Linked DNA regions of Homo sapiens: all the other regions are linked to region 1. Evidence: fine-mapped expression QTL. A gene starts in region 1. Each other region holds a variant in brackets. All regions are shown on one strand. Distances are from middle to middle.

Region 1 (4,088 bases):
ATTTGCTTTTCTTTCTCACGTTCTTTTCATGCCTGGAATACCATTTCTCTCCCTCTCTCTCTCTCTCTTTCTCTCTCTCTCCATTTTTTTTTGTGAACTGTTTGAGAATCAGTTGCAAAGATGATGCCCTTTTGTTTCCTAAAAAACAAGGATGTTCTTTTATATAACCATTACCAAAATTACCATTACCGTTACCCAAATCAATACACTAATACAAAACTATTATTTAATATTTAGACCGTGTACCATTATCAAAATCAGAAAGTTAACATTGATGCGGCCGGGCACAGTGGCTCATGCCTGTAATCCCAGCACTTTGGGAGGCCGAGGTGGGCAAATCACTTGAGGTCAAGAGCTCCAGACCAGCCTGGCTAACATGGTGATACCCCATCTCTACTAAAAATACAAAAATTAGCCAAGCCTAGTGGTGGGTGCCTGTAATCCCAGCTACTTTGGAGGCTGAGGTGGGAGAATCACTTGAACCTGGGAGGCGGAGGTTGCAGTGAGCCGAGATTGTGCCACTGCACTCCAGCCTGGGTGACAGAGTGAGACTCTGTCCCCCCACCCCCCCAAAAAGGAAATTAACATTGATGCATGGTACTAATCTAACCTACAAGTCTAATTCTGATTTCATCAACTGTCCCACTAACATCCTGTATATACCAAGCTTCTTATCGTCATCATCTCTGGTAATTTCCCCAATTATCCAGTGAATTTGATATTATTAGCCCTGCTTTACCAACAAAGAAACTAAGCTCAGAGAGGTTAAGTAATTTGCCCACAGTTACACAGACAGTAAGTGGCAGAGCTGGAATTCCAACTCAAGTGTACTTCCTCCAGAGCCCTTGTTCTTTAATACTGAACTAGAATTGCAGAGCTTGGAAAGGACTTCACAGTGCAAGGACACGGAATTGGTACTACAGGCATGAAAAGAAGCCAGGCACGGTGGCTCATGTCTGTAATTCCAGCATTTTGGGAGTTCCAGGCAGGTAGATTGCTTGATCCCAGAACTTCAAGACCTGCCTGGGAAACGTGGTGAGACCCTGTCTCTACAAAAAATACAAAAATTAGCCGGGTGTGGTGGCGCACGCCTGTAGTCCCAGCCACTTGGTAGGCTGAGACGGGAGAATTGCTTGAGCCCAGGAGGCCAAAGCTGCAGTAAGCCGTGATTGCGCCCCACTCCAGCCTGGGTGACAGAGTGAGACCCTGTCTCAAAAAACACAAAAACAAAACAAAAAAACAACCCCCCAAACCAAAAAACAAAAACCTAAGAAAAGCCAGTAACTGATACTTTCTCAATCTCTCAATGAAATGTCCTTTCTGATACTTTCTCAATCTCTCAAGGACATGTCCGGTAGGAAAGGAGAAAGGAGTGAACAAATAGAATTTTGGCTACTTTGTTATACAATGTAAAAAGGCTTTTTGGAACACCAAGGCATAAACTAAGGTTATTTTAAAAAAGAAAATTTTTTTTTGATACGGAATTTCGCTCTTATTGCCCAGGCTGGAGCGCAATGGCTCGATCTCGGTTTACTGCAACCTCCACCTCCCGGGTTCAAGCGATTCTCCTGTCTCAGCCTCCTCAGTAGCTGGGATTACAGGCGCCTGCCACCACGCCCGGCTAATTTTTGTATTTTTAGTAGAGACGGGGTTTCATCATACTGGTCAGGCTGGTCTGGAACTCCTGACCTCAGGCGATCCGCCCGCCTCGGCCTCCCAAAGTGCTGGGATTACAGGCGTGAGCAGGATTTTCATTCTAACAAGTTCCAGGTGAGTTGATACAGTGGCTCCAGGGACCGACCACATTTTGCTAACCCCCGGCTTAGAGTTATTCAAAGAGCCCGTATATGAGACGCGGATTCCATCTAGGGCGTTTAGGTTTAATGATTAACAATTTCCCTCTTCTGCTCTCTCAAGGCAGCCAGGGAACAGGGAGACCATGATTCATGTCCAATCCCCGAGGCGCGTTATCAAGCTGCTGAAAGCAGGCCCTCCGGACTGCAGTTCCAAAGGGTCCCTTCCCAGGGAAGACGCCTGCAAAACCCAGATAGTACTATCCTGGAGTCACGCGGCGGCGCGCAGCCTCCTAGCCGCCCCCACCCGCCCGGCTCGGCCACAGCGGGGCGGGGCGCGGGGCTGAGCAGGCGCGAGGGCTGGCTGCTGGGCCGACGAGGGGCGGTGCCAGGCCGTGGGTCCTTAGTCAAGTGACGCGAAGCGGCCGGCCTGGGCGCCGACTGCAGAGCCGGGAGGCTGGTGGTCATGCCGGGGTTCCTGGTTCGCATCCTCCCTCTGTTGCTGGTTCTGCTGCTTCTGGGCCCTACGCGCGGCTTGCGCGTAAGTCTGCGGGACCCGGGTACGGGGAGGCATTGCTAGGGGACAGGCTGGCGGGGAACCGGGCTGGGGTCGCAGCCACCCGCGGTCCCGCAGGGCGGGGAGCCTGAGCCCCGAAGTGCCCCCCAGCAGGCTCGCGGCCGGCGGAACGCAGGCAGTGGACCGGCCTTCCCGTCGGGGGCGGGCCGGGCGGGGCGCGCGTCCTTCCAGGCAGCTCGGTCGCTTGTGCGTTCCGCTCCGGCCGCCCTTTGCGCTTGGATCCACTTCCCCATCTGTAACGAGGTGTTGAGACGAGGTGCGTGTAAACATTTCCTAAGTTGGCTTTCCGGGAGGGGATTCCAAGTTGCGCGGGTTAGAGGGTGCCTCCGGCTCTGGTTTGGGGCGCCCTCGCTTTCCCAGTTGGTGCTCTGCGGAGCGCTCCGGAAGGAGAAAAATGGGGTCAGGAGAGGCCCTTGCAGTGGGAACATTGGGTTATTTCCCCTCTGGGTGCTCTCCCTCTTCGTGCATCTTGTTCCTTTCTCACCACTCCCCGTCGCCTGCCCTTTGGCTTGGGTTTTTCTTTGTATTTGTGGGACCGTTTTCCTTCGGCGTTTGGGGGTCCAGGTTGAGGGGGGGAATAGGCAGGCTGCCGGGGGATGCCATCGTTGATCGGGGCAGGGCTGGCGAGGCGAATAGGTGAGGTGCGGGGCGTGCACAGTTGGTGGGAGAGGAAGGACAGCTTCACTCGCTGCGTCCGAGCTGAGGCGACTGGCTGAGGGGCTCCAAAGCGCTGCCTGGGGAGGTTTGCATCACACCTGCGGAAAGGAGAGTGGGTAGTTGCAAGCTGCTCCTCTGCACGTTCCGCGGACCAACTTTGGTTCCTCCAGGGTGTAGGTGGGCTGAGCCTGCAGTATGCTTTAAGTAAGAGCTGGTAGCATTTGACACCGTTGACTTGTAAGTTACACCCTTTAATAACGCTTTCAATAACGTGCCTAGGGCAGAGAAAAGTGGTACATTTATCTACAACCAAGATTGAACATCTTAAGTATTTGGAAAACAGCTGCTGAAAATGTTTTCATTTTGGGAAAAAGTCAGCACAGATTATTTGCTGCTCCCTCTTCACCCCGTCTGTGGTTCCCCTACCCCAGTATGTAGACAGAGTTTTCTTGTCCAGAAGGCCCGTAGGACCTTAGGAGTCAGAGCTAGCCAGCTGTGAGAACCACTGGGGAAGGTGGAACTGGGGCACAGTTCAGGAGAACAGTGGCAGGGTAAGGGGCTAGGGGAAAGGCAGATCTTAACCAGTATCTGGGAGTGGGGGTAGGGAGAGAGAGAAGGATTTATGAACCAGGAACAGGTGGACAGGGTCAATCTGTCTGATGTGAGCTCATCAGTCTTGTGCAGCGTCATTGGGTCAGGGTGGATGCCCTGTGGCTGCCATACCTGAGGCCCACACAGGGAGGCTGGCATCACCCCAGGAATTCTCATTTCAGGTGCCTAGGTGTCCCTCTTGGGCTTCTGTGCCCACAGCTAAAGAAAGATACCAGCAGTCTAGCTTTCCATTATCTCCTTGTTTACATTTCTTTAGGGTTCACGCCATTCTCCTGCCTCAGCCTCCCGAGTAGCTGGGACTACAGGCGCCCGCCATCACACCCGACTAATTTTTTTCTTTTTTTGTATTTTTAGTAGAGACGGGGTTTCACCATGTTAGCCAGGATGGTCTCGATCTCCTGACCTCGTGACCCAGCGGTTCTCAAATTTTAACTAAATTTTAGCTGTCC
Region 2 (4,088 bases), 52 kb after region 1:
TCGGGATCCTCTGGTCTAGACCCCGCCCCTTGCACAGTGACTGCAGGGGCATTTGTTTTTCTAGTCCTTTTGTATACTCAGTGTTGGCATTATCCATTGGTCTTTGTTGTAGGTCAAGTTCCCAGGGAAACAGACTCTGAGATTACCTGGTAGAAAGCTTATTGATTGTGCTCTCTGGAGCAATGCCTGTAGGATAGAGAGGGAGAAGTGGGGCTATGATGCAGCTTCACAAGTGGCCTCATCCAATCTTAGAGGGAGCTCTGCAGCTGGGTTGGCTGTTCGAGGCACATTGGTCAGTTGTTGGATGTGGGCTATCCCTGAGGGTTGTAACCTTGGGTGAGGCAGCTCAGCACAGGCCAGCACCCAGAGACGGACACATCTGAGAAATGTCAGCAGACAACAGCCCTAGCTGCTGGGAGAATGAGTGAGTGCCCTGGTTCTAAAGGGGGATCCAAGAGGTGCACCACAGCCCCATCGACAGTCTTTGTAGATGCAACAAAGGCCCTCGGATTATGTTTGAACCTCTGTGGCTGATGTGGGTCTGCTGTCATCTCCCGCTGTGTTTGGTTTAATAAGCCCTGGGTTTTCTGCTGATCCATGGCCTAGTCATCTGTGTCTTCACCACTGAGCTTTTCTCAGCCACAGCTTGAGGACGTGAAAAAGTTCAGAGTTGACAGGATTAACAGTCAGAGATGGGGGTCATATCATAAGCCCTGCCATTACTGCTTGTGAGGTGTTAGCAGATTTTTGTGGGGAGCTTCAGATTCCCTGCTTGTCCAGTGGGGGTGATACCTGCTAGAATCACAGCTGTGAGCTTCTGTAGAGAGTGGATGGAAAGAGTCCTTGGTAAACTCTAAGGTGCCTGGTAACTGCTACCTGTAGAAAGAAATTCCTTCCTCTAAACGTTGCATCCTGAGGGTCACGTCTGTGTCTCCCAACAAGTGGTTTTAATGTGTCTTCTAGTTTTCTCTCTCTACAGTGCTGAGCTCATGGATCCCAAAGAACTTGTCCCAGAGCTGCACCATCAGTAATAACTAGTGGCACATTTTTGTCTTCTAGGGGCCAACTCACCCTATGCAGCACAGCCCACCAGCTACGACTATGATGCCCCACTGAGTGAGGCTGGGGACCTCACTGAGAAGTATTTTGCTCTGCGAAACATCATCCAGAAGGTGGGTGCTTTGTATGAGCTGTGGTGGGCTGATCTTGGACAGAGCCTCTTTTGAACTCACTGTGGCTCTGTGGACAACTTCCTGCCTGGAGCCCTCCTGTTTAAAAGGATGGATGAAGGGAGGCATCAGCTAGACTTGGGTTTGCATCTTGTACCCACGTGGTTAAGAGTGAGTCTATGAGCAGATGCTTATAGGAGAGTAGGAGATATAAGACATGTATTTAAAAACTGCAATATATAATACAGTGTTAAATGCTACTTACAGATTCACTTCTTATATGGTGAGAATTCACCCGGGGAAATTTCTGTCTCCATTTTCTTCTCCTTCCAGGCCAGATTATCTTTCCAAAAGTTCAGGTGAGAGGTAGGGTGATGGGAGAGAATGCACAGATCCTCTTGAGACTATAGCCCC[T/G]ATTAAGGCAGCATGGATATATGGGAGCCCCTATCCTTGAGACACAGCTAATGTACTTCAATATCAAAAGAGGTAAAGCTAAGCTCTGGTTTCTTTATTTAATGCATCATCTGAAAAAAGTAAGTTTCCAGTAACCAAAGTGTATAAGAATTATTTCTCACTAGAAAATAACTCCGTCCTTATTTGCAAGAGAGAAGAAGATAAACTATTTTCCTTTTTATGTGTGGCCCAATATACAGACTATGTGATTTCAGAATGAGGAACACCAGATTTTGAACCTGGACACTATTTCTTCAACCTTAAGCCAATTGTGTAAATTCCCTTTATATAAAAGTAGAGGTAGCCGTACTTACCTCACAGACTTGTACAGTTTAAAAATAAATGGCACTCAATAAATGTTTGTTTTCTTCTTTCATAGTCAAATAAATGAACAATAATTATTTATTTACCTAAAAAAAAAAAAGAGTGAGTCTATGAGCAAATCAGTCTACTGATTGTTAATTTGTAAAACTGGGATTACAGCATCTGGTTGTGCTGTAAAGCTTGAAAAGAACGTATGTAAGCCATCCAGGACAGTTCCTGACACATATATGTCTAATAAGTGGTAGCCGTTAACTATTATTTATCTTAAATGTAAGAAAATGTGTGTCTACTTAAATAGCTGATGTACATAGGAAAAAAAATCTTCAGATACTGTGAAGCATGGTGCAGATGTCAGCTGTCAGTGAAGCTTCATTTTTCTATTTGGAGCAAGTGATTGCTGTTTCTGGACTGCATCTGAACTGCTTAGTCCTGCTAGCGTTGTACCCTTTTGAGGCACCTAATGCACCTAGGTGGGGTTTCCTGTCTCTGCTGTGGGTTAAAAGAAAAAACCCACAGTTTTTATGCTCAGTCACCTGAGTTTTGAAGTTAAAAAAACAAAGGTTTTCTGCCTATAAATGGTATGGTTTTTTTTGTTTTAAGTATGATGTCGTTTTAATTTTAAGCATGTGTTAAAATGAATATTACAAATTTTTTAAATATAAAAAATACAATCTAGACTTACCACACTTATAATTTGTCCATTTCATCTAAATTTTCAAATGTATTGTTAAAATGTTGCTTATGTTATTCCTTTATTATGGGTTTAATCTCCACAGAATTTATAGTAATGTCTCCCAAGCTCTCCCTTGTATGTTTGTTCTGTTTTGAAGCTTTCTGTTCCTATCTTTATTATTTCCTTCCTTTATTTGAAGCTTAGCTTTTTAATGCAGCCTTTCTTCTTTTCTAATATAAATATTTAAGGTTATAAATTTCCTTCAAGTACTGCTGTGGCTTTATCTCGTAAGTTTTGATGTGCAATCTATTTCTTACTGTTTGCTTCTAAACATATCTATTTTGATTTCTCTTCACCATTGATATGTGTTTTTTAAATTACTGGAAATAAGTACTTTCCTGTTTTTTTGATTTCTAGTCTTTTTGCATTCTGGTTAGAGAATATAGTCTGTGATACCAATCCCTTGAAAGCTGCTGAGCCTAGTCTTAGAGCCTGACATACACCAATATTAATGGTCAATGTGCGCATAAAAAGAAAGTATATTTTACAGTTGTTGACTATATTCTACATACATGTTCATCAGATTAAGTTTATTAATGGTGCCATTGATATCTTTGATCTGCTTCCTAATTTTTTGTCAGTTCAGTCTACTATTTAGTGAGAGTTGTCCTCATGTATTTCCCTTTGTAGCTCTGCCAGTTCTGAGGTTATGTTATTAGGTGGGCAAATTGAGAATTACATCCTTCAGTACTTAATAGTAAAGGGATTATATAACCCTCTATTTCTAATAAGGCTTTTTGCCTGGAAGCCTTTTTTTTTTTTTTTTTTCTTTTTTTGGTCTGTTATTCATTAACACCATTTACCTGCATACTTTTGCTTGGTATTTTTCTGAGGTATCTTTCCCAATGCTGTAATTTCATCCTTTTTATATCCTTTGTTCTGTTTACATGTGTCCCTTATAAACAGGATATAATCGAATTTTTAAAATATCTAGTTTGAAATTTCTTGTCTTTTAACTGATATATTTATACATTCTCATTCATTGTACTTCTTGATATACATAGATGAATTTCAATTATCTTATTTTATAATTTCTATTCGTTTACCTTTTTGGCTCTTTCTTTCCCTTTATTGCTTTCTTTTAGATTGAGGTTTTTTGTTTTGTTTTGTTTTTTCCTCTTATTTCTTTCCCCCCTCTTCTACTTTGGAAGTTATTCACTGCATTCTAATTTTTTTAGTGGTTACCATTTAAGTGTGACATCTATACCCCCAGAAAAGAACAACTCGTAGTACACAGCTCAGTGAATTTAGGCAACGGGAGCGCAGCCCTGTGACAAACACATAGCTCCCCGGAAGCCCCTCTAATGTCCCTCTCTAGTCATTGACACACATACCCATTCCTGAGCTCACAGCTGTCCTCACCTCTATCACCAGAGATTCATTTTGCTCGTTTTTAGGCAGCAAGTTCC
Region 3 (4,088 bases), 24 kb before region 1:
AGTCCCAGCTACTCACGAGGCTGAGGCACAAGAATCACTTGAACCTAGGAGGCGGAGGTGGCAGTAAGCTGAGATTGTGCCACTGTACTCCAGCCTGGGTGACAGAGCGAGACTCTGTCAAAAAAAAAAAAAAAAAAAAAAAACCGAGACTGGGTAATTTATAAATAAAAGAGGTTTAATTGGTTCATGGTTCTGCAGGCTATACAGGAAGCATAGCAGCTTCTGCTTCTGGGGAGGCCTCAGGAAACTTACAATCACGGCAGAAGGCAAACAGGGAGCCGGCACTTCACATGGCCAGAGAAGAAGGAAGAGAGCGGGGAGGTGTTACACACTTTTAAACAACTAGGTCTCATGATAACTCACTCACTATCATGAGAATGGCACAGAGAGGATGGTGCTAAACCATTAATAAAGGATCCACTCCCATGATCCAATCACCTCCCACCAGGCCCCACCTCCAACCCTGGGGATTACAACTGGACATGAGATTTAGGTGGAGACACAGATCCAAACCATATCAGCAGGTGTCTGTCACCCCACTTCCTCCGACAATGCAGTTAAACAGAAGTGCCACCATGCATCAGCACTAGTTACTAGGAAGGGCAACCACATGCCAGATAGTGGAAACTTCAAGGACTTTCTGCTAATTGTTGATTAGACTCGATTAGAAGAGAAATAACAGGAGGCTGAGGCAGGAGAATCATTTGAACCCAGGAGGTGGAGGTTGCAGTAAGCCAAGATCGTGCCGTTGCACTGCAGCCTGGGCAACAGGGCGAGACTTCATCTCAAAAAAAAAAGAGAGAGAGAAATAAACTAGGACCAAGGAAGTAGCTTGGTCTCCAAGAAATAAGTAGAGATCCTGGATACACACAAAACCTGCTAACTTGCAGAGGCCAGGACAGGCCCTGAATAAGCATGGGACCCTCCATTTGGAGTTCTCAGCTGCTCTGGAATGGTGGTATCTGAGGGCACCCCTTAGACCTAGAATTTTCACCAAGCTTAAGGCCTCAGGTAAAGACAGTGGATTTTCTTCTTCTTTTTTTTTTTTTTTTTTTTTTTGAGACAGAGTCTTGCTCTGTTGCCCAGGCTCGAATGCAGTGGTGCAATCTCAGCTCACTGCAACCTCCAACTCCTGGGTTCAGGCAATTCTCTCTGCCTCAGTCTCCCGAGTAGCTAGGATTACAGGTGCCTGCCACCACGCCTGGCTAATTTTTTTGTATTTTTAGTAGAGACAGGGTTTCACCATCTTGCCCCAGCTGGTCTTGAACTCCTGACCTCGTGATCCACCCACCTTGGCCTCCCAAAGTGCTGGGATTACAGGCATGAGGACCGCGCCTGGCCGAGGGTGGATTTTCTTAAACCTCCTGGGCAGGCCACATGCCCTGGAAATAAGACAGGCTGAGAACTGAAGGAGCCTTTCCTGAAGAATGGGTCAATAAGTAGCCAACTCCAGACAGCTGGTTCTGCAGAAGCAGCGGGGCAGCAGCAGCAGCAAGAAGGACCAAGCAGAAAGAGGAGGCCCCTGATCACACAGGAGGGCAGCACAGCCACCCCAAAAGGGCTCCAGTGAGGGCCAACAGGACTAGCTGAATTCCAGATAAGCCCAGGGCACTGACCACACGCACTCGGCTTCGTTCCCCAAACCCTATGAAAACAACAGTGAAGACTATGAAAGGCATAAATTGCTTTTATGGGAGAATGGGAAGGGAGCAAGCAGCAGATGAGATTTCAACAACTTTTGGAAAGGCAGGAAGTGAAATAGTCACAAAGGAGGGGCCAGAGGGGAAGCAAGCTATATGTCCCATTGGCATGCGCAGGCATGAGGGACCACGGGAGGCTGGGGTAAGGCATGGAGCTAGAAGCAGGGCTGCAAGTTTGAACAGGCTGTTGGGGTCCTGGGTCCGCTCCCAGCACCTACCCACCCACCCAAGAGATCATATCTCCCAAAGCCACTCTTCACCAGAGAGTGGCAGTTTATTCTAGAGACTTTACCCATAAAGGCTGAGGAGTCAGGGACCAGACGTAGCAGAGGCCAAGTGGAGGCATGAGGCTAAAATCAGGAAGCAGGTGAAGTATTCCTACTCACCTGGGTGACCCTGTCCCTCTCCCCACACTGGTTCTCAGACACCAGCAGAGGAGTATGCGCACCCCACCAGCCCTGCAGAAGGCTGGTGAAGTCTTCCCTGGAAAACTGACAGATACCCCCAAAAAGAGACTTCCACACATACATTTTCCCTAGCAGTCAAAAAGTGAGCCTGAGATCTGATCACTCTACAGAAAACCCTGTGGTCAGGCCTTGGGAACTATAACTTCTAGTGGATATTTTCCACATATCCCCATTTTCTTTCATTTTTTTTGAGACAGAGTCTCGCTCTGTCGCCCAGGCTGGAGTGCAGTGGCGCAATCTCAGCTCATTGCAACCTCTGTCTCCCGGGATGAAGTGATTCTCCTGCCTCAGCCTCTCGAGTAGCTGGGTTTACAGACATGCTGAGTCACCA[C/T]GCCCAGCTAATTTTTGTATTTTTAGTAGAGACGGGGTTTCACCATATTGGCCAGGCTGGTCTCAAACTCCTGACCTCAGGTGATCCATCCGCCTCGGCCTCCCAAAGTGCTGGGATTACAGGCATGAGCCACTGTGCCCAGCCAAATTCCCATTTTCAACAATGCCCTGCCCTTGCTTGAAACCCAGGCCCCCAGTGCCTGAGTTCCAGAAGACCTTGACAATAGTGAGTGCTCAAAAGGGCGAGATCGTTCTTTCTTATTGTTGTTCTTACGACTAATTCTCATCAAAACTCTTCTTCGTAGATGCGCAGATTTAAGTGTCCTCTACTCTGTCACATCAGCCTTCCTAACTCGTCTTCATTTTCTACCTTAATATATTTAGGGTGCGTTTGTGTGCAAGTGTGTATAAAAATATATGCCTTCTCATTTCATCAAAACTGGAGATTTATGTTTCTATTTCTTGTGTTCCTGGTCATTTTAGATGATTTCCAAGATATGTCTTTAATCTACCCTCTTAAAACTAAATAATTAAATGACCATATTTCTAAAATGTAGCATTTAAAGGGAACATGGCTTTTAAAATCATCACGGCATACAAAATATCATTATTAAATGGATCACTTTGTGCTAAAAGTCAATCATTTCTATTGTCATAATATTCAGCAAATGTCACCAAAAATCACTAGAGGTCCTTAGCTATCAGCAGCTGCTTATGGAGAGACATTTCTTTAACAGTCCAGGTTGCCACTAACTGCCACATAAAAATCCAAACATACTTCATATGACTTGGTTTCCAGGTCTTTAATGTAGTCCTCGGCACCAGGCAGGCTCTTATAATATGCCATGTTCCTCTTCATCATTTCGTCATCAGGATGCTTCAGTAGAAAGGTGTGAGCAGCGGCGATGGCTTTGGGGAGATTATTTGCCTAAAAGGACAAAGAACATAAAAGCTACTCCATGGATGCTAAGTGGTAATTTTTGTAAAACAAGAATATCTGCTTAGTCCTTCAGAAACTTTGTGTTGCTATAACTTTTCCAGCTAAAGGTTCCATGACTTCCAGGGCCCCTCAAGACCAAGTCCAGGCACTGTGAGACAAGTGCTGATTTCCTGAAAGCGACTGTCTGGATGGCCTCGGTCTGCCTTTCCCAATCTACTCTGCACTGGCTACATGCCCCAGGAGGCTGGCCTGTGTGGACTATAACAACAGACTCCCTCGCTCTCTGGCTTCCAAAGAGGTTCACCCATGAGGAGCCCCAGTAGATGACTGAGGAAGGGAAGAGAGTAAGGTCATGTTATTTCATTTCCTGGTTCCCTCCCTGCACAGTCCTCTTGGGCTGCTATGTCCCTTAATTGAAGATCACAGTTCTTCTCAAGGTGACCCTCTCCATAGAGTCTCCCTCCTTCCCGGTTTCAATCACTGCTCTCTCCCCTGCCCCTTTTGGCCTAGGGTTGGTCATATCCCACTGCTATCACCCCTGTGGCAGAACACTATCTCTTGTGGATTCCCCATGCACTGCACACACCTTTGTAAATAACCACCTTCTTAAACTTTCCTCCAATTACCCAATATGACTGCACCATATCTTTT
Region 4 (4,088 bases), 110 kb after region 1:
GTCGTGGACCACCTGACCTCTTTTCTGGGGACTTTGAAATCAGGAAGTGTCCCAAGAAGTGCCCAGTGAGGAGTCCCCAAGGTTTCAGGGTGTATCCCTTCTAGTGTGATGGATAAGCCCCTCAGCATTTAACTATTTTAGTAGGTGGGTTTGTTTTGTTTTGTTTTTTTCATTTACCCAATAGACATTCATTCAATACTTACTCTAAACCCCATGCCACTGTGTAGGACACATTTCTTGCCCCTCAGGGAGCGCACAGATCTATTAATGAACCATGTAGCTTGTGAGGGGTAGACAATGACAGCGATGAGATCAGAGTGCTGTGAGCATGCTGAATCCAGTCTTAGACTTGATGTGGAGCAGAGACTGGTCAGGGCAGGCTTCCTGGAGTTGAGCCAGGTGAAGAATAAGAGAAGAAGGAGAAAAGATAGGCATGAGTAGAGCAGAAAGTGCTTCTCAGAGGGAGGCAGCATCTGCAGAGATCCAGGGTCTGGAGAGACAATGGAGAATTCCAGAAATTGGTGGCATGTACCTCAATCTGACTGGGGTTGGAATGAACAGAGATGAGGCAGGAGAGATGCAGGGATCAGAGCTATCTCCAACCAGATGGTAGTATCCTGAAAAATTGGTTATTTTCACATATCTTTTGTCCTCTGAAGTTTCTAGGTTCATGTCTTCAACTTTGATGGTGCTTAATAAGAATAATAACATTCATAAAGTGGTTTTAATGTGTTATTTTTGCATACAGTATTTCATTCAGTCTTTATAAGAACCTTTTGAAGAAATAGGGCGGGTGGCATGCAGCTCAGTTTACAGTTTAGGAAAATCAAGAGGTAGGAAGAATTGTGATTTACACAAAATCAGGGGCCTGAAACTCACACCCAAGTCTCTTGCCTCCAAATCCCACACTCTTCTTACTATGCAGATTGCCTTGATTGAGCTGCAAGGAGAAAGTTTTGTATTGTATTTGAGAAAACTCACAACACAGAAGAACAATATTTCAGCCTTGTCTGACATGACAGATCAGGTCTGAGCTGTGGCCCCAGGTTTTGGTGATTGACCCATGAGTCTTGTGTGTGTCTCTGGTGAGCAGAATGCCCGGTATATGTGGGTCCCCAGTGGATACAGGTCAGGGAGCAAGCAATCCTCCACACTGGAAGATGACTTATTCACAAGGCTGGGCATCCCTCTCAGACAAAACCCACTATCATATCTCTTCTGGTTTAATTCATGTTTTGACACTCAGCAAATTCCCCAGGAACTTAGCTGAAGAGTTTCGTGAGCCGGAAGTGCCTCTGAAAGAAGTGAGCAGAGAGAAGGTACGTGGAACTTTATTCATAGTTGAGCAGGCAAATGATGACTCTCGGTTTTTCTCTGGAGGGGAGCTCTTCCTTGAGGTGAAACGGGCTGAGGAGACATGAGAGAGGGCAGAGAAGCACCACAGACTGACATCAACCTGAGGCCTTCTGATGCTAAGAACATCACAACTTCCCTGGTGGGCAACTGGGTTCATCTGTCCACTGTCTGCCATGATCGGCAGATATCAAGAAGCCATTTGCAAAGTCCAAAGGACAAATATGGTAAAATACTCAAGAAACTCTCTGAAGAGTTTATTTGTAGTGGACCAGAGGTCACTGTGCTGCTGCCAGCACCCCACCCCCACCCCAGTGATCTTGATAAGTCTTTCATGGTTTTGTACCCTAAAATTGTGATTACCTGGAACCAAACCTTACCATGCCAAGGGCTTCCACTAGATGGGATTTTTGCAGTACTAAATATCTACAAGAAAAAAAGAGCTTGTAGAAAAAAAAAACAGGAAAAAACAGTTGTTAGGTGGAGGACTAGTTTTATCTAGCTTTCTATTAAAAGCTTCTGTGATTGCCTGATAGGCTGATAACAGGAAGATATTGTTGAAATACATATTCCAGATCCTGTCCTGAAGTCACTGCAGATTCATCTCAGTTCACTGCAAACTCTACAAAAGCCAACCTGGTAAAAGATGGAATTCTGATTGTTCAGGAAACAGAAGTGGAGGACAGAGTAAAAAGACTGAGATTAACTGTCTGGTTTTCTTTCCACTCTGGGCACCAGAATTTTGCCTCTTAATAGCTAGGAAGGAGCCACCCATCTCAAGAATTCAGATAGA[G/T]CAATGCTTTTGAAAGCAACCAACTCTTCACTCTGATATAAAACGTCAGTGCCCATGTTATCTGAATAGTAACATATGTAGAATGTGAATACCATACAGCAGGTGTGAACTGAACTTTCAGTCCCTCCTCACTGAGCAGGACACTTCAACAACACGTTGGTCCCAACTCTTCCTCTTTCTCTTAGTGACCAATTTTGCCATTTTCTGCTCCCATGTTTTTTATACACTGAAATTTCCCCTTCTTCATTTCAGTGAGCCTATCACTTAAGTCCTTGGTCTTTGCACCTTAAAAGTCTCTAAGATCCTTTTTTTTTTTTTTTTTTTTTTGAGATGGAGTCTTGCTCTGTCACCCAGGCTGTAGTGCAATGACGTAATCTTGGCTCACTGCAACCTCTGCCTCCTGGGTTCAAGCAATTCTCCTGCCTTAGCCTCTCAAGTAGCTGGGACACAGGCATGCACCACCACACCCAGCTAATTGTGTTGTATTTTTTAGTACAGATGGGGTTTCACCATGTTAGTCAGGTGGTCTCAAACTCCTGACCTCAAATGATTCACCTGCCTCAGCCTCCCAAAATCCTGGGATTACAGGCATGAGCCACCGTACCCAGCCTCTAAGATCCATTCTTTATGGAAATGTTATTAAGCTCCAATATTCTCTGCAAAAATGCTTGTAGCCTGCATCTCTTTGTTAAATCCAGGACAACTTTCACTCATTCATTCATTCAACTATTAAGGTGTACCTAATACATGCTGGGCATTGAGAATAAAATGATAACCACTTTATCACCCCATCTCTCAGTCTCTTTTTAAAAGAGTATTGAGATACTATCAATAGCAATAATAATAAAAACATGACCTATGCCTTCAAAAGGTTTAGTTAGTAGAAGAGATAAGTAAATAGACAGTTCAATGCAGTCTCATGGGCACCATAGTGAGAGACAGTACAGAGTGGCAGAGCAGCAGAAGAGGGGTTCACAATCCAGGCCTGGGCAGCCAGGCATTCTGTCTTACTGCAGAGCCAAAGACAGGGCTTTGTGTGCACGTGGTTTACAGAGGGGATGCTCTAAGGAGAAAGGAAGTGAGGGAAGGGTGCAGGGCAAGAGAGTAAAGGTAAGCAAGGAGACTACTTTCAGCTTAAACCAACTGTTTAGTTCATGATTCTGCTATATGGTTCTTCTGGTCTGGAACAGGCTCCACTGATGTTGGCTTGGCTCCCTCATGTATCTAGCCTAGGTCAGATCAGGCTGCTAGTTCCAGAGAAACTCACACACATTAATTTCACCACAAAATTGGATGCACCTTGAGTCAAGAGGGCCAGTCTTTTAACCTTCCATCCGTGTCAGCCAGCCATTGGCCGCAGGCTGCCACTGGTGGGAGGGGAGGACTAGTTGTACTGTGGGGAGGTAGTAGGGAATTGGCCATAAAAAAAGAGAAGAGGGCATCTGTGAGCTGTTAGCAGCCAACGCTCATGGTAGCTGGGGACTGGGTACACCAGTCCATAAAGGAAAGTTGGGTGGGCATCATCAGCATCTGCTGTCGGTCTCTAAACTGAGACTTGAGTGATGAGCAATAGTTGGTCAGGTGAACAGTAGGGGAAGAGTATTCCAGGTTAAAGAAATAGTCTATTGCAGCAGTGGCTCATGGCTGTAATCCCAGCAGTTTGGGAGGCGAAGGCGAGTGGATCATCTGAGGTCAGGAATTCATGACCAGCCTGACCAACATGGTGAAACCCTGTCTCTACTAAAAACACGAAAATTAGCTGGGTGTGGTGGCACACACCTGTAATCCCAGCTACTTGGGAGGCTGAGGCAGGAGTGTCACGTGAACCCGGGAGGCAGAGGTTGCAGTGAGCCGAGATCATGCCACTGTACTCCAGCCTGGGAGACAGAGCGAGACTCCATCTCAAAAAAAAAAAAAAGAGAAACAGTCTATGTAGATGGCC
Region 5 (4,088 bases), 67 kb after region 1:
TTCTGGGCTTATTCAGCTCAATATTTCCAGGAACATCCAGGTAGACAGATTTCTCCATAAGCACCAACACTTAATAGTAAGACACTCCAGGGAGAAGTCGGAAAGGTTGGCGCAGATTCTGGGGCGATCAGTGCAAATGGAAGCCGAAGTCCAGGGAGAGGTTGAGACTGCACATGGGGAGCTGACTGAGGAGGGCAATGGGCCAAGCAAAAGACAAACCCAGGGGATCCCAAGCTTTAACAACTGGGCAGAGTAAGAGAACCCACAAAGGAGACAGAGTCTTTAGAAATTGCCAGGCTCAGTGGCTCACGTGTGTAATCCCAGCACTTTGGGAGGCCGAGGTGGGTGGATCACCTGAGGTCAGGAGTTCGAGACCAGCCTGGCCAACATGGTGATACTCCATCTCTACTAAAAATTAAAAAATTAGGTGGGCATGATGGCGTATGCCTGTAGTCCCAGCTACTCTGGTGGCTGAGGCAGGAGAATCGCTTGAACCCAGGAGGCAGAGGTTGCAGTGAGCCGAGATCATGCCATTGCACTCCAGCCTGGGTAACAAGAGCAAAACTCTGTCTCAAAAACAAAACAAAACAAAAAAAGAAATGAATGTAATTCAATAGCTTATGATAGATTGCAGCTTAACATGTCATATTTTCCCTCTTTTTTTGATATTTCTGGTTTGAAAGAGAAATTAACTACAAGATTTAGTGGAGATTATATATATATATATATATATATATATATATATATTTTTTTTTTTTTTTTTTTTTTTTTTTTTTGAGACAGAGCCTTGCTCTGTCACCCAGGCAACTTCCACCTCCCTGGTTCAAGTGATTCTCTTGCCTCAGCCTCCCGAGTAGCTGGGATTACAAGCGCACACCAATGCACGTGGCTAATTTTTGTATTTTTAGTAGAGACGGAGTTTCGCCATGTTGGCCAGGCTGGTCTCAAACTCCTGACCTCAAGTGATCCACCCGCCTTGGCCTCCCAAAGTGCTGGGATTACAGGTGTAAGCCACCGCACCCAGCCAGTGGGCTCTTTCTTATGAGACTTTGTAGACATTCCATTAGCTGATTTGTTAAATGATCTTCAAAATATTTGCTTGCATCAAGTAAAGGAAATTGGATGGTAGATATCCCCTGTATATAGCTCTACCTGCCTCCTTCCTTCATCAAAGACTCAAAAAGCGGAATATGTCTCCTCTGTAATCCATTTCAAGAACACATTAGGTGGTGATGGGCAATATATTTCACTGACATGGACTCCTGGGGATAATCTCCCAGCAGGCTGCATAAGCCTGTGCTCAGTGGTGAAGGCCCCCAGGCGGTTGTCTTCATATGAATCTTCAAGGCATGGCAAAGCTCATGACATTTGCATTTTAAAAGGTATTTGCTTTGGTGTGGGTAAAACTCAACCAAACATGGTTAACACTTTGACCTCGAGGATGAACCATAAAAATATAGGGCAGCGACCTCCTCTTCCCTACTGATTCCTGAGAGGGGCAGTGGTGAGTTTATTTTTGTATGCTGTCAAATCAACTTAAGACCCATTTTAAGAGTTTTGTTTCTGTTCTTTATAGGGATTCCATCAACGTAAGAGTTCCGCTGATGTTTTGGAAATGGGTCACTGTAGAAATTAATCAAGTGGTAGTGAGGACCTTGATAATTGGAGTGGATTCTGGGATTCCCAAAGGTAGTAACTGGGCTGAGTGGTGAAGAGGGGATGGGAGAACAGCCACAGTGATTTTTTCTGTACTTCAAAAGCTTAATGAAGTTTGAAATTTGATCCAGGATTTGTCTACACTGGCTGATTGATCATCCTGCACTGTTTATGACTGGAATGACATTGGCTTGATACGCAGACACAGCTGTCTCTTGCTGATGTATAGTGCTGGTGAAAACCAGTGTTTTATGTCTGATGGTTACAGATGAGAAAGGCAATATTACTTAGCAACTGTTAAATAGTCTTTTAAAGTGTCACCTGCTCTCTTGTAGTACTGGTCTCTTCGTTTCCTGTAGAGTTGGCTTTTCTAGTCCCTCTCCCAGAGTGATTTCTCTAAAACACTGATGTGATCGCTTCTCAGTCTTTTGGCTAAGATCAAGTGTAGTATCTAAAACACTGATGTGGTCAGGATACCTTCCATGACTTGGCCCCTATATTTTTCCAGCCTCATCTTTCAATTCTCCCTTCTTAGATGTGACTTCCTGGCCTTAAGTTGGAGCTATATACAATTCCATGAATGAAACAGCACTGTT[T/C]ATACCTCCTGGTCTCTGCACCCTCTGCCTTTATTCACCTGGAAATGAAGACACACCTCAGTTACCTTATCTGCAGAGTCTTCTTTGACCCACTTGTCAGCCAAGTTAGTCACATTTTGTTTTCTATCACTTATGTTGTAGAAATCTTTTAAACATTACTTTTCTTTTTTTTTTTTTTTCTTAACTTTTAGGTTCATGGGTACATGTGCAAGATTGTTGTGTAGGTTAACTGTGTGTCACAGGGGTTTGGTATACAGATTATTTTGTCACCCAGGTAATAAGCATAGTACCTGATAGGTCATTCTTTGATCCTCTGCCTCCTCCTACCTACCACCCTCAAGTAGGCCCTGATGTCTGTTCCCCTCTTTGTGTCCATGTGTTCTCATCATTTAGCTCCCACTTATAAGTGAGAATGTGCAGTATTTGGTTTTCTGTTCCTGCATTAGTTTGCTTAGGATAATGGCCTCCAGCTCCATCCATGTTGCTGCAAAGGACATGATCTTGTTTCTTTTTTATGGCTGCATAGTATTCCATGGTGTATATATGCCACATTTTCTTTATCCAGTCTACCATTGATTGTCATTTAGGTTGATTCCGTGTCTTTACTAGTGAAAATACTACTTTTTGTGGTGTATTAATATAACTGATTTATACACATTTCTCACTCTCTGGAATAGGTTTATAAGTCTAGTACCAAGCATAGGACCTGACACAGAGTACTTTCTTAATAAGAGTTTGTTGGATGAATGTATGAAAACATTAGAGGTCTTGGTGAAGGAAAAGCTGGTCACCATTGAATCTAGTGGATTCCACAGGGAAAAGAGCAGCTTCCCGTGTTGAATGTGTCCGGTTAAGTATGAGAAGCAACATTTCTGATTGCTCTGAAAAGTATGATTAAAGCACAAATTATTATGGAAAAATAATGGTTTAGAAGTATAGCATTTTGGTATATTTGTTCATTTCTTTTCTGAAACATTAATTAGCTAAGGTAAAGATGAGGATTTTGCTATATGATAATCAAACTAGTATCAATGAAAATCATCAATATTAAAATGAAAAGTTAGAAAATTGTAGTAAATGGGATAGACAGATGAAAGCTTAATATCTGTATTATAATGAGCTAATATCACTGATCAGAATATCAAGATCTACATAGAAAATTGGGTAAATGATGACCAGGCGCAGTGGCTCACGCCTGTAATCCCAGCACTTAGGCCGAGGCGGGCGGATCACCTGAGGTCAGGAGTTTGAGACCAGCCTGACCAACATGGAGAAAACCCGTTTCTACTAAAAATACAAAAAATTAGCCAGGCGTGGTGGTGCATGCCTGTAATCCCAGCTACTCGGGAGGCTGAGGCAGGAGAATCGCTGGAACCTGGGAGGTGGAGGTTGCAGTGAGCCGAGATTGTGCCATTGCACTCCAGCCTGGGCAACAAGAGCGAAACTCCGTATCAAAAAAAAAAAAAAAATTTTTGGGTAAATGACATAAGCAAGTATGGATACTTGATGAAAATGTGAGTATACACTATTTTAAGAGTCTTATACTCATATCCTTTGACCTAGTCACCCCACACTCAGAGTGTTACTTTTAAAAAATAAAAATTTAAAAGGATAATGCTATAGACATGAAGTTTGAGACTCCATCTCAAAAAAACAAAACGAGAAAAAAGAGGCGACATAGGGTAATATGCTAATTGATGGAACTAATAAATAAAGATATAAGGATATTATTTTAAAGGTACAAAGATAACTAGGAGAGAAGCTGAAAATGGTGATATAACCATAATAGCAAGAAAGGAAGATAAACTTTCTTTATCTTCTGGGCTGTACTCTCAT
Region 6 (4,088 bases), 56 kb before region 1:
CCATTGCATTTCCATAAACTTTAACATTCAGTTAATGTCTGAGATTTTTATTGGAATTGTATTAGATCTGTATAGATCGATTTGGACAGAATTGCCAACTTAATGATCTTGAGCCTTCTACTACATGATCATGGTCTATTCCTCCATTCATTTAAGTCTTCTTTAATTTTGCTTAGCAATGTCTTATATCATTCCATGTAGAAGTCTTGAACATCTTTTGTTAGATTTATTCCTATGTGTTTGGTTTTTTTAATGTTATTGTAAATAGCATCCTTTTAAATTTTAATTTTCTGTTTATTGACAATATTTAGAAATACAATTGATGTTTATATTTACTGTAGACCTAGTATCCCTAATAAACTCACATGTTTTTTGTTGTTGTTGTTTTTGAGTTGTTGTTTTTGTTGTTGTTGTTTTTGAGTCTCACTCTGTCACCCAGGCTGGAGTGCAGTGGTACGATGTTGGCTCACTGCAACGTCCGCCTTCCGGGTTCAAGCGATTCTCATGTCTCATCCTCCTGAGTAGCTGGGATTACAGGCATATGCCACCATGCCTGGCTATTTTTTTGTATTTTATTAGAGATGGGCATTCGCCATGTTGGCCAGGCTGGTCTCGAACTCCTGGCTTCAAGTGATCCACCTGCCTAGGCCTCCCAAAGTGCTGGGATTACAAGTGTGAGCCACCATGCCCGGCCTAAGCTCAGATGTTAAATTTTAGTTACTTGTAATATTCATATGTAGATTATTTGGGTTTATCTATGATACACAGTCATATCATCTGTGAATAATAACAGTATTATTTATTCTGTCCCAGCCTTTATGCTTTTAATTTCCTTTTCTTATGTTCTATACTGGCTCTGTGCCTTTGGAGCTAATGAGGTTTTTTCCCTCTTTTCTTCCAGATGAGGCTGAGGCACACATTGACTATGAAGATAACTTCCCTGATGACAGATCTGTGTCATTCAGAGAGCTCATGGAGGATTCCCGGACAGAGGCAGATGAGGACAGGGGTCAGGGAGACTCCTCTGAGGAGGCTCCAAAACAGGACCGTCTGGTCTCCATTTCTGTGGGGAGAGAAAACATAGCCCGGGATAAAGTCTTTGTGCCAACCACAGGCTTGCCTGGTGCTGGGAGCAGTGTCCCCGCAGATTCACCAGGATCACGGCTGCTCCAGAAGCACTTGTTCTGGTTTCCTGCTGAGGCTTTCCACAAGCCTGGGTTGGAAAAGGAGGTGGATGATGACACCAAAAAGCAGTTTTCTGCTGGAGACAACCACAGTGGTGTAAAATTGGTCCCAGGTGAACCTGAAACCAAGGTGATCTACGGCAACACTGATGGTCCCTCGGGGCCATTTGTGGGCAAGAATGACAGCAAGGCAGGAGATCCAGTGGTGAGCAGCAGTGATGAGTCCTGGTTAGATGGCTACCCTGTGACAGAGGGGGCTTGGAGGAAGACAGAGGCAGAAGAGGAAGAAGATGGGGACAGAGGGGATGGGTCAGTAGGGCTGGATGAAAACGTCCTAGTTACTCCTGATCAGCCCATTCTTGTGGAAGTTAAGAAGCCCAAGAGTAGCACCCTCACACCAAGCGAGGGCATGACCCATAGTTCAGTTCTTCCATCTCAAATGCTAGATGTGGAAGCTTTGGCGCTCAGACCCGTGAATGCTTCCGAGACTGAGGGCATTGGGGATGGTGACTTGACGAAGTACCAGTCAACTCTACCCTGGAGATTCATCACAGAGGAATCTCCCATGGCCACCCTGTCCTATGAGCTCACCAGCTCCACCCTGGAGATATTAACAGTGAACACTGTCAAGCAGACACCTAACCACATCCCCTCAACGATCATGGCAACCACCCAGCCTCCAGTAGAAACCACTGTTCCTGAGATCCAGGATAGCTTCCCATACCTGCTGTCTGAAGACTTCTTTGGACAGGAAGGCCCCGGGCCAGGTGCAAGTGAGGAGCTTCATCCCACCTTGGAGTCGTGTGTGGGGGACGGATGTCCTGGCCTCAGCAGAGGCCCTGTGATCGCCACCATTGTCACCGTCCTGTGCCTACTGCTGCTCCTGGCAGGTGTGGGGATGGTGTGGGGCTACCGCAAGTGCCAGCACAAGAGCTCTGTGTACAAGCTGAATGTTGGCCAGCGGCAGGCTCGGCACTACCACCAGCAGATCGAGATGGAGAAGGTCTAGGCACCTTTGGAGTGGGTTCTCCCAAAGCCACTTGGGAGGAAAATAACTGTGACACATCACACGATAATTCACTAGAGCATGACGCAGGTGGACTG[A/G]GGCTCATCATTTTTTCCTCAGCCCTTTGTTTTATAGGCTGAGAAGTGTCTCTGGAGCACCTGGGAGGGCAGGGAGGCTTTGGTGACATCATCACTCATGTCAATGTCTCCTCCACCATCTGCCCTGGAATTGACTACACTAATCCCAGACCTGTGCTTGGGCCCTGTTTCCAGTGTGAGGTCAAAAATCGCCTCTTCCTTCATCACAGTATTATCTTTTTTTTTTTGAGACAGAGTCTCATGCTGTTGCCCAGGCTGGAGTGCAGTGTCCCGATCTGAGCTCACTGCAACCTCTGCCTCCCAAGTTCAAGCAATTCTCCTGCCTCAGCCTCCCAAGTAGGTGGGATTACAGGCATGCACCACCATGCCCAGCTAATTTTTTTATATTTTTAGTAGAGATGGAGTTTCACCATGTTGGCCAGGCTGGTCAAGAACTCCTGACCTCAAGTGATCTGCCCTCCTTAGCCTCCCAAAGTGCTAGGATTCCAGGTGTGAGCCACATCACAGTATTACCTTTTTGAAGAAAGAAAATCACCAGCTTCATGCCCTGAAATTTTATAAATAGTCATGATAAACCAAGTGTATGAGAGCAGTATTATCTAGGACATGGATATTGAATTATTGGGAGAGGAATATGGAAGAATAATGGGTTGTTTCCTTTTAATGTTGTGATGTTGCTGAGGGCAGATGAACCAAGAGCCAGGACACAGTCTAGAAGCTTTGAGGTTTCTTTTTTCATTGTTTCTTGAAATTAGAATTTAAGACTGACATTTTGTTGGGGGAGTTGAGGAGTGAAGAAACACACATCCCCCTCTGTTCCCTCCATTCTGTGGGACAGTCTGTCATTTATTTTATTTTATTTTCAATATTTCATGGTTAAGGATTTGCCATTATTTTTTAAAAACAAAGTTAGCTTTGTACCAGTAAGTACCATTTCCTCTCAGAAGCAGTGGCCTAGTTGTCCTTGACCAGTCTGTGCCTAGGAATGTCTTGGAATTTTTGCCAGGACTAACAAAACTCAGTCCTTGGTTTCCTCTCTCAGGATTAACCATTTCTCTGAACTCCAGTAAGAGAGAATGACACGGGAGAAAAAAAAAAGAAATGTTTTCAGAGGGCCGAACACCAGGTTATCAAGTATGGGCACATACTTGATGGAGAAGCAGAAGAATCTGTGAAAGAATATGAAATGATCTGTGCTGATCTGTTCTCTAGTGTGGAAACTGGGAGCTCTGTGGAAACAGAATCCATCCTGTCTGTTGGGTAACCCATTTCGTAGCATCTAAATCATCTTAGGGTGGCTCAGCGAGGATGGTTTATGGCAGTGGTTCTCAAAGTGTGGTCCTCAGACCAGTAGCATCAGCGTCACCTGGGAATTTGTTGGAGATGCAAATTCTCTAGTCCCACCCTGGACTCAGGAAACAGGAACCCTGGGAGTAGGGCCCAGTTCTGTTTTTAACAAGCCCTCCAGGTGATTTTGATATGCACTCAAGTTTGAGAGCCTGTTGGTTTATAATAATCTCAAATGTGAACTTCGAGGCCAGCTGAAGCCCTAAAGGCACAGATGAGTATGTGGTGTGTGTTGTGTGGAAGTCAGGCATGGCTGTGTGCAGCTGAGGTGGCATTTGAAGCTGCCTAAATGCCACCTGCAATAGTCTCCTGTATGTTGGCACAGAAATGAAACATGTTATATTTTTCTAATATGAATCACCTTCTTAGAAATAGTTATCAGTGGTAAAAAGTGATGAATGCAACACATTTATTTTGAGACACCATAGCAGTCTAAGTGTTTTTGTGTGGTAG

The links. PIP is the estimated chance that this variant, and not a neighbour inherited with it, causes the effect.
Region 2: its variant is fine-mapped to the expression of GLB1 in cerebellar hemisphere (GTEx, PIP above 0.99). The same link has a PIP of 0.9 or more in blood mononuclear cells.
Region 3: its variant is fine-mapped to the expression of GLB1 in monocytes (Quach 2016, PIP 0.93).
Region 4: its variant is fine-mapped to the expression of GLB1 in whole blood (INTERVAL, PIP above 0.99).
Region 5: its variant is fine-mapped to the expression of GLB1 in T cells (TOPMed, PIP above 0.99). The same link has a PIP of 0.9 or more in monocytes after LPS and monocytes after Pam3CSK4.
Region 6: its variant is fine-mapped to the expression of GLB1 in whole blood (TOPMed, PIP above 0.99).

The regions. Positions count from the first base shown.
Region 1 is chr3:33,095,257-33,099,344 of GRCh38, reverse strand. It overlaps GLB1 (galactosidase beta 1), which reads left to right and starts at 2,199. Exons shown (of 16, transcript NM_000404.4): 1 at 2,199-2,334. The coding sequence starts at 2,260. TMPPE (transmembrane protein with metallophosphoesterase domain) reads left to right here and starts at 2,199. Exons shown (of 2, transcript NM_001039770.3): 1 at 2,199-2,626. RefSeq lists a silencer at 2,002-2,611.
Region 2 is chr3:33,043,204-33,047,291 of GRCh38, reverse strand. GLB1 (galactosidase beta 1) reads left to right here. Exons shown (of 16, transcript NM_000404.4): 10 at 1,060-1,172. Among named protein-coding and RNA genes, the nearest start is that of GLB1, 52 kb to the left of the region's middle. The variant T/G (reference allele first, on the strand shown) is at 1,584.
Region 3 is chr3:33,119,681-33,123,768 of GRCh38, reverse strand. It overlaps CRTAP (cartilage associated protein), which reads right to left. Exons shown (of 7, transcript NM_006371.5): 2 at 3,276-3,425. Among named protein-coding and RNA genes, the nearest start is that of CRTAP, 7.7 kb to the right of the region's middle. The variant C/T (reference allele first, on the strand shown) is at 2,499.
Region 4 is chr3:32,986,571-32,990,658 of GRCh38, reverse strand. It overlaps a transcript of GLB1 not described here. Among named protein-coding and RNA genes, the nearest start is that of CCR4, 37 kb to the right of the region's middle. The variant G/T (reference allele first, on the strand shown) is at 2,147.
Region 5 is chr3:33,028,300-33,032,387 of GRCh38, reverse strand. All of the region lies in intron 10 of GLB1 (galactosidase beta 1), which reads left to right. Among named protein-coding and RNA genes, the nearest start is that of GLB1, 67 kb to the left of the region's middle. The variant T/C (reference allele first, on the strand shown) is at 2,253.
Region 6 is chr3:33,150,847-33,154,934 of GRCh38, reverse strand. SUSD5 (sushi domain containing 5) reads left to right here. Exons shown (of 5, transcript NM_015551.2): 5 at 902-4,088. The coding sequence ends at 2,193. Among named protein-coding and RNA genes, the nearest start is that of CRTAP, 39 kb to the right of the region's middle. RefSeq lists an enhancer at 921-2,120. The variant A/G (reference allele first, on the strand shown) is at 2,289.